2 separate regions of the Homo sapiens genome follow, and region 1 is linked to region 2. Evidence: fine-mapped expression QTL. A gene starts in region 2. The other region holds a variant in brackets. All regions are shown on one strand. Distances are between the middles of the regions.

Region 1 (4,372 bases), 62 kb after region 2:
GCTTGGTCAGCCTGCCTTAACCCCCTCTCATGCCAGCCCACTCACCCCAGCCGATGCCCAGGTAGAGGCTGAAGAAGCTCCTCTCGGGGAGGGTGGCCAGGCCCAGCAGGTTGTGCAGGTACAGGCCCTCCACCAGCAGCCAGCAGTAGTTGGCCACGATGCCATATTGCATGAACACCGCGGCCACACGGCAGCCAGCCACCGCCTGGTACAGGTGCAGTGTGAGCGCGGCTACGTGGCCACCTGCCTGGCTGCCCACCCACCCACCTGCCTGGGGCCGCCGAGGGGGGCTCACTCCATCACTGAGCCAGGTGCTGACACTGAGGTCGTCGCCAATTTTCTGGCTGTAGCGGGTCCTGAGCAGCCCATCAATGACCAGCACGGAGCTGGCTTTCAGCACGAAGGACGCAAACAGATTCGCGTGGATGGCATTGCGGGTGCAGTGCAGCTTGCTGTGGGCACAGCCAGTCAGCGCCCGTCCTCCTCCCTGTCCTCTGCGGCCGCCCCGGGCGCTGGCGGAATCCTACCTGAGGCCCCCCAGGATGGCCAAGGCGAGGAGCAGGGCCCCCAGGGACAGGCTGTAGCCCACTGTGTACATCACCTGGAAGCTGCTGTACATCTTGGCCACCTCCTTCTGCGAGTTACAGTGGCCTGTGAGGGCCAGGCAGGGGCCCCCATGCCCGTTCCCATCCAGCCCCACCGCGCCTGCCTGCCGCCCACTGACCTGGACCTCAATCTCCTCGCCATCCATCTGGCACTGGGAGGCATCACGCCAAGGCTGCCCCCGGGGTCCACGCACCCACTGACCGTCGGGCCCGCATCTCTTGAACACGAAGCGGTGTTGCACTGGGGGTGTGGGGGGAGGCTGGGGTCAGCCCCACCCTGGGCCCGCCCCCCCCACAGTTCCTCCCCTCTATGGGTACCTTTGTGGTGCCAAGGCAGGTACCAGGGGCAGGAGATGTTGGCCGTGGTATTGGCGGGGGTGTCCGGCCAGCAGGAATACTTGTCGAAGGTTCTGTTGCACACCAGCTCTGCAGGGTAGGGTAGGGCAGGGCAGAGCAGGGCAGGGCAGGGTGGGAGAAGGGGCTCCCTCAGCAGGCCTCTCTCCTCTCTCTGGAAGCCTGAGCTCGGCCGTCACCTCGCCCAGGACATGGCCTGGGCTGCTCCCTCCCCCACTTGACCTCCACCTCCCCCATCTGACCTCCACCTTCCTCACCTGACCATCCACCTCCCCTGGACCAGCCTCCGCTAGCACGCCCAGCCCAGCCCTGAATTGCAGCTCTGCAGGACACCTTCCCTTGGAGACCCCCCATCTCAAATGTGCCCCAAACCCACACTGGGGTCCCCCATTCTCCGTGACCTTCTCTCAGCACCTCCCTCTCTGGGGGCTGAACCCCAATGCCATTTTCATCCTTCCCAGGTGCATCGCCAAACCTGTGGCTGCCACATCTGCTCCCTCTGCCCAATGGAGGCTGCCACACCTGCCCCCCTCTGCCCAGTGGTGGCTGCCTCCCTCATCCGAACCCAGGCACTGCCTCCCGGGTGAGTCCTCCAGCCCTATCCTCTCCCTGCACCCCAAGTGTCCAGGCCATGATATACACTCTCCACCCGAGCCCTCCCAGGCCCCTGGGTCCCAGCTTCCACGCCCTGGCACTGTCTGCCCACTGAAAACTCCACGGGGCTGTAGGTGGTATTACCCATCTGGGCCTGGGGGCAGCAGCAGCAGCCGGTTCTGGGGCAATGCCACCGTTCTGTTATTTCCTGGCTCTGCGGCCTGAGGCAAGTCCCCAGCTCTGTGGCTCAGTTACCTCGTTACCTCACCTGCCCACGGTGGTGGGGGCCTGAGGAATGACAGGGCCCCTTGGCGGGGTCCTCAAAGGCTGCATAAGCACCCAGGAACCTTCCCATGAAGAGAACTCAGGAAGTGCTGAGGCCAGGCACAGGCTGAAAGGCTCTGGGTGGGGGGCTCACCCGTGGGAGGGGGCAGCAGGCTCAGGTTGTGGTGACACTGGTCACCGTAGAGCTTCCACTTCTCAAACAGGAAGTCCATCACCTGAGCGGAGGGGACCTGTGGCTGGGGGACACATGCACAAGCAACCAGACAGACAGACA[GAC/C]AGGCAGGCAGACAGACAGGCAGACAGACAGGCAGACAGGCAGGCAGGTAGATGGATAGGCAGATGGACAGACAGGCAGACAGACAGGCAGACAGGCAGACAGACAGGCAGGCAGACGGACAGACAGATAGGCAGGCAGATGGATAGGCAGATGGACAGACGGACAGACAGGCAGACGGACAGGCAGACAGACAGGCAGACGGGCAGACAGGCAGACAGGCAGGCAGACAGGCAGGCAGACGGACAGGCAGACGGACAGGCAGGCAGACAGGCAGGCAGACAGACAGGCAGGCAGGCAGACGGACAGGCAGACGGACAGGCAGGCAGACGGACAGGCAGACAGGCAGACGGACAGACAGGCAGCAGACAGACAGGCAGGCAGGCAGGCCGACAGACAGGCAGGCAGATGGATAGGCAGATGGACAGATGGACAGGCAGACAGACAGGCAGACGGACAGGCAGACAGGCAGGCAGATGGATAGGCAGATGGACAGATGGACAGACAGACGGACAGGCAGACAGACAGGCAGATGGGCAGGCAGACGGGCAGACAGACAGACAGGCAGGCAGACAGGCAGGCAGGCAGGCAGGCAGACAGAGAGCCATCAGTGTGCAGTCCTCACAGGAGGGCCCCTGGGTGCTGAGGGTGCTGTGAGTCCTCACCTGGCAGGCCAGCAGCAGCAGCAACAGCAGCAGGGGTCGCTGTGGCTGGCAGGGGGGCATGCCTCTGGGCAGCTAGCTGCCTCCCACATCTGGCAGGGGCTGCACAGCTGGGGCAATGCAGTCCTGGTGGGTGTGTACGCTCCTCCGAGGGCAGCTGAGTGGCAGAGCAGCAGAGCCTGGGGCGTCCTGGCCAGTGGGGTGTCCTCCCCTGAAGCTGCCCCTCTGAGCCTCAGGGTCCTAGGGATAAAGAGGGAGCTGGGGGCCGGGCGCGGCGGCTCACGCCTGTAATCCCAGAACTTTGGGAGGCCGAGGGGGGTGGATCACGAGGTCTGGAGATCGAGACCATCCTGGCTAACACAGTGAAACCCCGTCTCTACTAAAAATACAAAAAATTAGCCAGGCGTGGTGGCGGGCGTCTGTAGTCCCAGCTACTCGGGAGCTTGAGGCAGGAGAATGGCGTGAACCCGGGAGGCAGAGCTTGCAGTGAGCGGAGATCAAGCCATTGCAGTCCAGCCTGGGTGACAGAGCGAGACTCCGTCTCAAAAAAAAAAAAAAAAAAAAAGAGGGCGATAGGAGGGAGGAGACCCCAGGAGGAGTCACTCTTGCCACCCAGGGCTGGCTGGCTGGCAGCTCTGAGGGTCGCAGAGCCCCTCGTCTCATTGCTGGTGGCAGCCACCTTCCTGCAGGTTGACCCAATGCTCTTGGGTGGGGGACCAGCCTCCCCAGATGGTGACCTCCTCCCTCAGTTGACAGCCCCCGGCTGCTTCCTCACCATCCTCCTCACCTATTCTTAGCCCCTGGGAAAGCTGGCTTGCCAGGCTGACCTGAGCCAATGTGCCAAGCGTGAGGGTGGCGGTGCCTGGACCTTCCATCACTTGGCCCCAGTGCCACAGCGAGCAAAGTGGCTGGGCTGGCTTGCAGCTGTGCCAGGCCAAGTGTGTGGGGCCCACACTCAGGGGTCTGTGTCACATGTGTGCCCCCTGCCCAGCACCGGGGTGCCTAGGTGCCTCGTGGGTGCCGTGCAAGGCTCGGTTGGGCTTCCTGGATCCCATGGGACGCCACAGGCTGGCTGCACAGTCCTTTGAGGTTAGCACTGCGGGCGTCGACTTGGAGGAGGAGCTGGCCTAGGGTGGGGGCACAGGGTGGGGAGGACATCCCCCGTGGTGCCTGCCAGGGCTGTGGGAGTCACAGCCCCTGGTCCCCATGCCACAGCCAGCATCTGAGCTGGGAGTTCGGGGTGGCAACAGCTACACAAATCGGCCTTTCGTTGCTACAGAGCCCAGTTTCTGCACCAACTGAATTCTGTGGGAGAAGCAGGGAGGGTCTTCCTGTGGGTCCACGTGCATGTGCGGGGTCCCGCGAGTGGCTGGCTATGAGCCCCCGGGCTGTTACGGGCTCTTCTTTGGGGCACCCTCAAATGGAATAAGAGGTGTGGATGGATGGCTGGGCAGATGGAGGGCCAGCCAGCTGGAAGGCAGTGCCAGGGGGAAGCCGGGGAGAGGGGCAAGGAGATGGGCGAAGGCTGCAGCTGGAGCAGAGGGTTTCCGGGCAGGCCTGGACTGCTGGCTGCCACGGGACAGCCTGGATTTTAGCCT
Region 2 (4,372 bases):
TTTTATTTATGTATTTATTTATTTATTTTGACAGAGTCTCGCTCTGTCGCCCCGGCTGGAGTGCAGTGGCGAGATCTCCACTCACTGCAAGTTCCGCCTCCCGGGTTCACGCCATTCTCCTGCCTCACCCTCCCGAGTAGCTGGGACTACACGCACCTGCAACCACGCCTGGCTAATTTTTTGTATTTTTAGTAGAGACGGGGTTTCACCGTGTTAGCCAGGACAATCTCGATCTCCTGACTTCGTGATCCGCCCGCCTCGGCCTCCCAAAGTGCTGGGATTACAGGCGTGAGCCACCGCGCCCGGCCCAACAGTTTTTTTTTAAAAGCACTTGGGTTATTGGAAAGTTGGGCAACATGATCACCTGCACAGGGGCTCTGAGTCTTTAACAGTGAAGCATTTCACACCTGATTAGGAAACGCTGTGCTGATGACATGGCACTGACAGTGTGACTCAGTTACAGAAACTCTCAAATATCCCTCCAACATTCAGAAATTTTCAAAAGACACCAAGCTCGGTATTTTGCATAGTTCTGTCCCCAAAAATGCCCTCCTGTGTTCATGTCTGTGTCTGAACAAAGCAGCTGTGCGTGTGTGTGTGCGTGTGGTCTCCACTTCTCTTGATCAGCCTGGGTTGCCTGGCAGTATGGGCCAAACAGACAGGGCCCTGTCTGCATGGAGCTCAAGAGTGATTAAAAGAGGCTGGGTGGCCGGACATGGTGGCTCACACCTGTAATCCTAGCACTTTGGGAGGCTGAGGCAGGAGGATCGCTTGAGCTCAGGGGTTCAAGACCAGCCTGAGCAACATAGTGAGACCCTGTCTGTACAAAAAATAAAAAATTAGCTGGACATGGTGTTGCACACCTGTAGTCCCAGCTACTCGGGAGGCTGAGGTGGAAGGACTGCTTGAGCCCAGGAGATAGAGGCAGCAGTAAGCTGAGATTGTACCACTGCACTCCAGCCTGGGCAAAAGAGCAAGACCCTGTCTTGAAGAAAAAAAAAAAAAAAAAAAAAGATTGGGCACCCCGGTGGTTCATGCCTGTAATCCCAGCGCTTTGGGAGGCTGAGGTGGGTGGATCACCTGAGGTCAGGAATTCGAGACCAGCTTGGCCAACATGGTGAAACCCTGTCGCTACTAAAAATACAAAAATTAGCTGGGCATGTTGGCTCACACTTGTAATCCTAACTACTCGGGAGGCTGAGGCAGGAGAATCGCTTGAACCTGAAAGGTGGAGGTTGCAGTGAGCCGAGATTGTGCCATTGTACTCAAGCCTGGGCGACACTGAGACTACGTCTCAAAAAAATAATCAATCAATAAATAAAAGAGGCGTCCACGTTAACGAGTCCACAGTCCTAACAAGTGCTGCAGGCTGGACGCGGGGCAGCGTCCCACCCAGTGTCTGGTGCAGGGCATTTAGGGGCTTGGCCTCCAGGAGAGGCGAGCCCGGGGCTGGGTGCGAGCACTGCTGCTGGGCCAGGCCACTCACGTTATGCGGCCGTTCCTGATACTTCAACACGGCCCTTGTGGGCGAATGTGTGGAATCTCGGAACAAGCGGAGTGGGGAACAGGGCTCTGCGGTGAAGCCCAGGCTGAGGCAGCCCCTCATCTGCTCACGGTGCCAGGAGCTCCCTGCCTCCTGGTCCTGAGGAGCCGCGGGATTCCTCAGGGACACTAGGGCCTCTGCAGCGGCGCCTGCGCCAGGCAGCCACGCGCGCTGCGCACGAATTCTGTCTCAGCCTGGAGAAAAACACCTCCGCTGCGCCCTCGCCCAGCACCAGCTTTCCGCGGGGCGTGCAAGGGGCTCCTCCTAGCCCCACAGCCCTGTCTTTCCACGGGGGACACCAAGGCCCTGGAACGGCCCGCGCGCCAGCGCTCTCGCCCGTGTTTAACGAGAACTTAATCCCCGTGCCCGTTACCTCCCCGAAGTCCCGGGACTAGGTGACTAGGCCCCGAAGCAAGAGTCGCAGTCGGACCGACTGGGCCGGGGAGGGCAGCGCACTGCACCTGCGCGGGCTTCCACAGCCCACGCGGCCGCCGCAGGCCTCGAGTGGGCGCGGGTTGGGCAGCGGCGAGAGGCGGGACCGGACCTCGCCTCCCGGGTGCGGGCGCCCTGGGCTCGCGTAGGGAAGTGCCCTGGCTTACAGAGGTGACCACTGACGGGGCTTGGGGTGGAAGGTGACGACGCCAGAACCCACGCGGAACGCGCCCACGAGGCCCAGCCGCAAGATGGCGACGGCGTGCCCCCGGCCACCCGCGCGCCGCGCATGCGCCCTGGCCTTCCCCGCCCGAGTGAGCGGAAGTCTCGTGACCCCGGAAGTGACAGGCAGGGCGGGCGGGGCGGCCGACGACGTTCGTCATTTAGTGCGGGAGGGATCCTGAACCGCGCGGCCGAACCCTCCGGTGAGTGGCCGTGGCGGGGCGGAGGCGGCGGGGCGGAGGCGGCGGGTCGGGGCGGGGACCGGCGGCGCCGGCGGGGGCGGGGGGCGCTGAGGTGGGGGCTTCCGCCTTTGTTCGCGCCCCGCCCTGAGCCCGCGGCAGGGTCTCGGCGGGCGGGGGCGCGGTGACAGCGGGCCAGGGCGGTGCGGGCTAGGGCGGGGCCGGGGCGGGACCGGGCGGCGGCGGCCCCGGCCCCACGTGCGGGTCCCGGGCCGGAGGGGCGGCGGGGACCAGGGGAGTGCCGGCCCCTCCCGAGCGGTCCGGAGCTTCTTTCATGGCCGCCGAGGCGCGTGGGGCCCGGGCCAGACCTGAGGGCCCCTCCTTGGGGACGCGGGGGGCGCCGGGCCGGCAGCCGCGGTCCATCGCGTTCGGGGGCGACGCGGGGATTGGGGCGCGGCCTCCCCCAGCGCCCGGGCCACGCCCGGCACGGATTGCGGGCCCTGCGGAAGTGCGGGCCGCGCCCTAGGATCCCGGCGCCTACGGCTATCCTCGCGCGGCGCGGAGGCCCCAGCCCCTGGAGGAAGCAGGGCGGCCTGGACCCCGGCCTGGGTGTCCCGGGTGTGCTGCTCCCTGACCCACCTCCCACGCTGCCGGGAAGGATCTGAGCCTGACAGATCCCCTGCCGGGTCAGTGCTGCCCCGGGCACTCCGGGCCCACCATCTACAAGAGGGCCCGAGAGTACTGAGTGGCTGTGGTAGCTCCCAAGTTGTAGGTCACAGACCCTCACAATTGTGGAGAAACCGCAGATACTTAGGATCCCCGTGTCCAGGTGGCCCCGTGCGGTATTCTAGCTGCCCCTAACATCCGAGCTCCAGGGGCATCCTGTTTGAAAGATGACGCTGAGCCGACCACACACGTTTACATGTGACTACCACGGCCAGAGGAGCAACCCTACTGAGGGATACCGAGCCCCGTTACCCCGTAGGGCGAGGGCCTGGGCAGCTCAAGAGCGGCAAGACCCTAAGAGAGGGTTTAGTGTGGGCCCCGCCGGTTGATTCTGGGGCCTGCTAGCCCCGCCCCACACATACAGGGGGCTGCTGCCTCCTCCATCGTGGAGGGGGAGGTGTGTCCTCTCTCCCCATGATCGGCTGCAGTTCCCATTTTGTCTTAGATGTTATACCTGGGGTGGGGGCACCTCACACTGCCCCAGAGGATGCCCCTGAGCAGGAATCGCGGGGGTGGAGAGGAGCGAAGGTGGCCCCCTTGGAGCCCTTTTGGAGCTCCGGCTGCAGCCCACACTCCTGCTCAGAAGTGCGCCTCCGTTGGGGATCCAGGTCCAAGGCCTGTCACCGTCCCGCCCACAGGTGTCCCGACCCAGGCTAAGCTTGAGCATGGCTGAGCAGGAGCCCACAGCCGAGCAGCTGGCCCAGATTGCAGCGGAGAACGAGGAGGATGAGCACTCGGTCAACTACAAGCCCCCGGCCCAGAAGAGCATCCAGGAGATCCAGGAGCTGGACAAGGACGACGAGAGCCTGCGAAAGTACAAGGAGGCCCTGCTGGGCCGCGTGGCCGTTTCCGCAGGTGAGTCTGGGCTGCGGGAGCCGGGTGGCCGCCCGTTCACTCCAGCTGTCTTGCCGCTCCCCAGCCCCTACTTCCACTGGTGGGGGTGGGGCCCTCACCTGCTGTCACTCCCCAGACCCCAACGTCCCCAACGTCGTGGTGACTGGCCTGACCCTGGTGTGCAGCTCGGCCCCGGGCCCCCTGGAGCTGGACCTGACGGGTGAGTGCCCTGCGGCCGCGGGGGTCCGGGCGGCCCCTGGTGGGGATCTCGGGAAGTGCAGCCAGGGGGCCGCGCAGGGCTGGGGCTTCGCGCAGGGCTGCTGGGCAGTCATTGAGGGGGAGGTCCCCCCAACAGGCGACCTGGAGAGCTTCAAGAAGCAGTCGTTTGTGCTGAAGGAGGGTGTGGAGTACCGGATAAAAATCTCTTTCCGGGTAA

Direction of the effects. Alleles are on the strand shown, and positions count from the first base shown. SD is a standard deviation of normalised expression in the study named.
With allele C in place of GAC in region 1, the expression in neutrophils of the gene that starts at base 2,361 in region 2 is lower (large effect, 0.93 SD a copy in BLUEPRINT).

Evidence for each region.
Region 1: its variant is fine-mapped to the expression of ARHGDIA in neutrophils (BLUEPRINT, PIP 0.95).

Annotation. Positions count from the first base shown.
Region 1 is chr17:81,807,484-81,811,855 of GRCh38, reverse strand. GCGR (glucagon receptor) reads right to left here. Exons shown (of 14, transcript NM_000160.5): 2 at 2,778-3,014; 3 at 1,972-2,074; 4 at 924-1,031; 5 at 725-846; 6 at 528-634; 7 at 296-452; 8 at 46-205. The coding sequence starts at 2,837. Among named protein-coding and RNA genes, the nearest start is that of GCGR, 5.5 kb to the right of the region's middle. The variant GAC/C (reference allele first, on the strand shown) is at 2,113.
Region 2 is chr17:81,869,326-81,873,697 of GRCh38, reverse strand. ARHGDIA (Rho GDP dissociation inhibitor alpha) reads left to right here and starts at 2,361. Exons shown (of 6, transcript NM_004309.6): 1 at 2,361-2,400; 2 at 3,741-3,957; 3 at 4,073-4,156; 4 at 4,292-4,368. The coding sequence starts at 3,768. RefSeq lists enhancers at 1,214-1,313, 1,764-1,833, 3,774-3,953 and silencers at 2,014-2,423, 2,624-3,053, 4,084-4,293.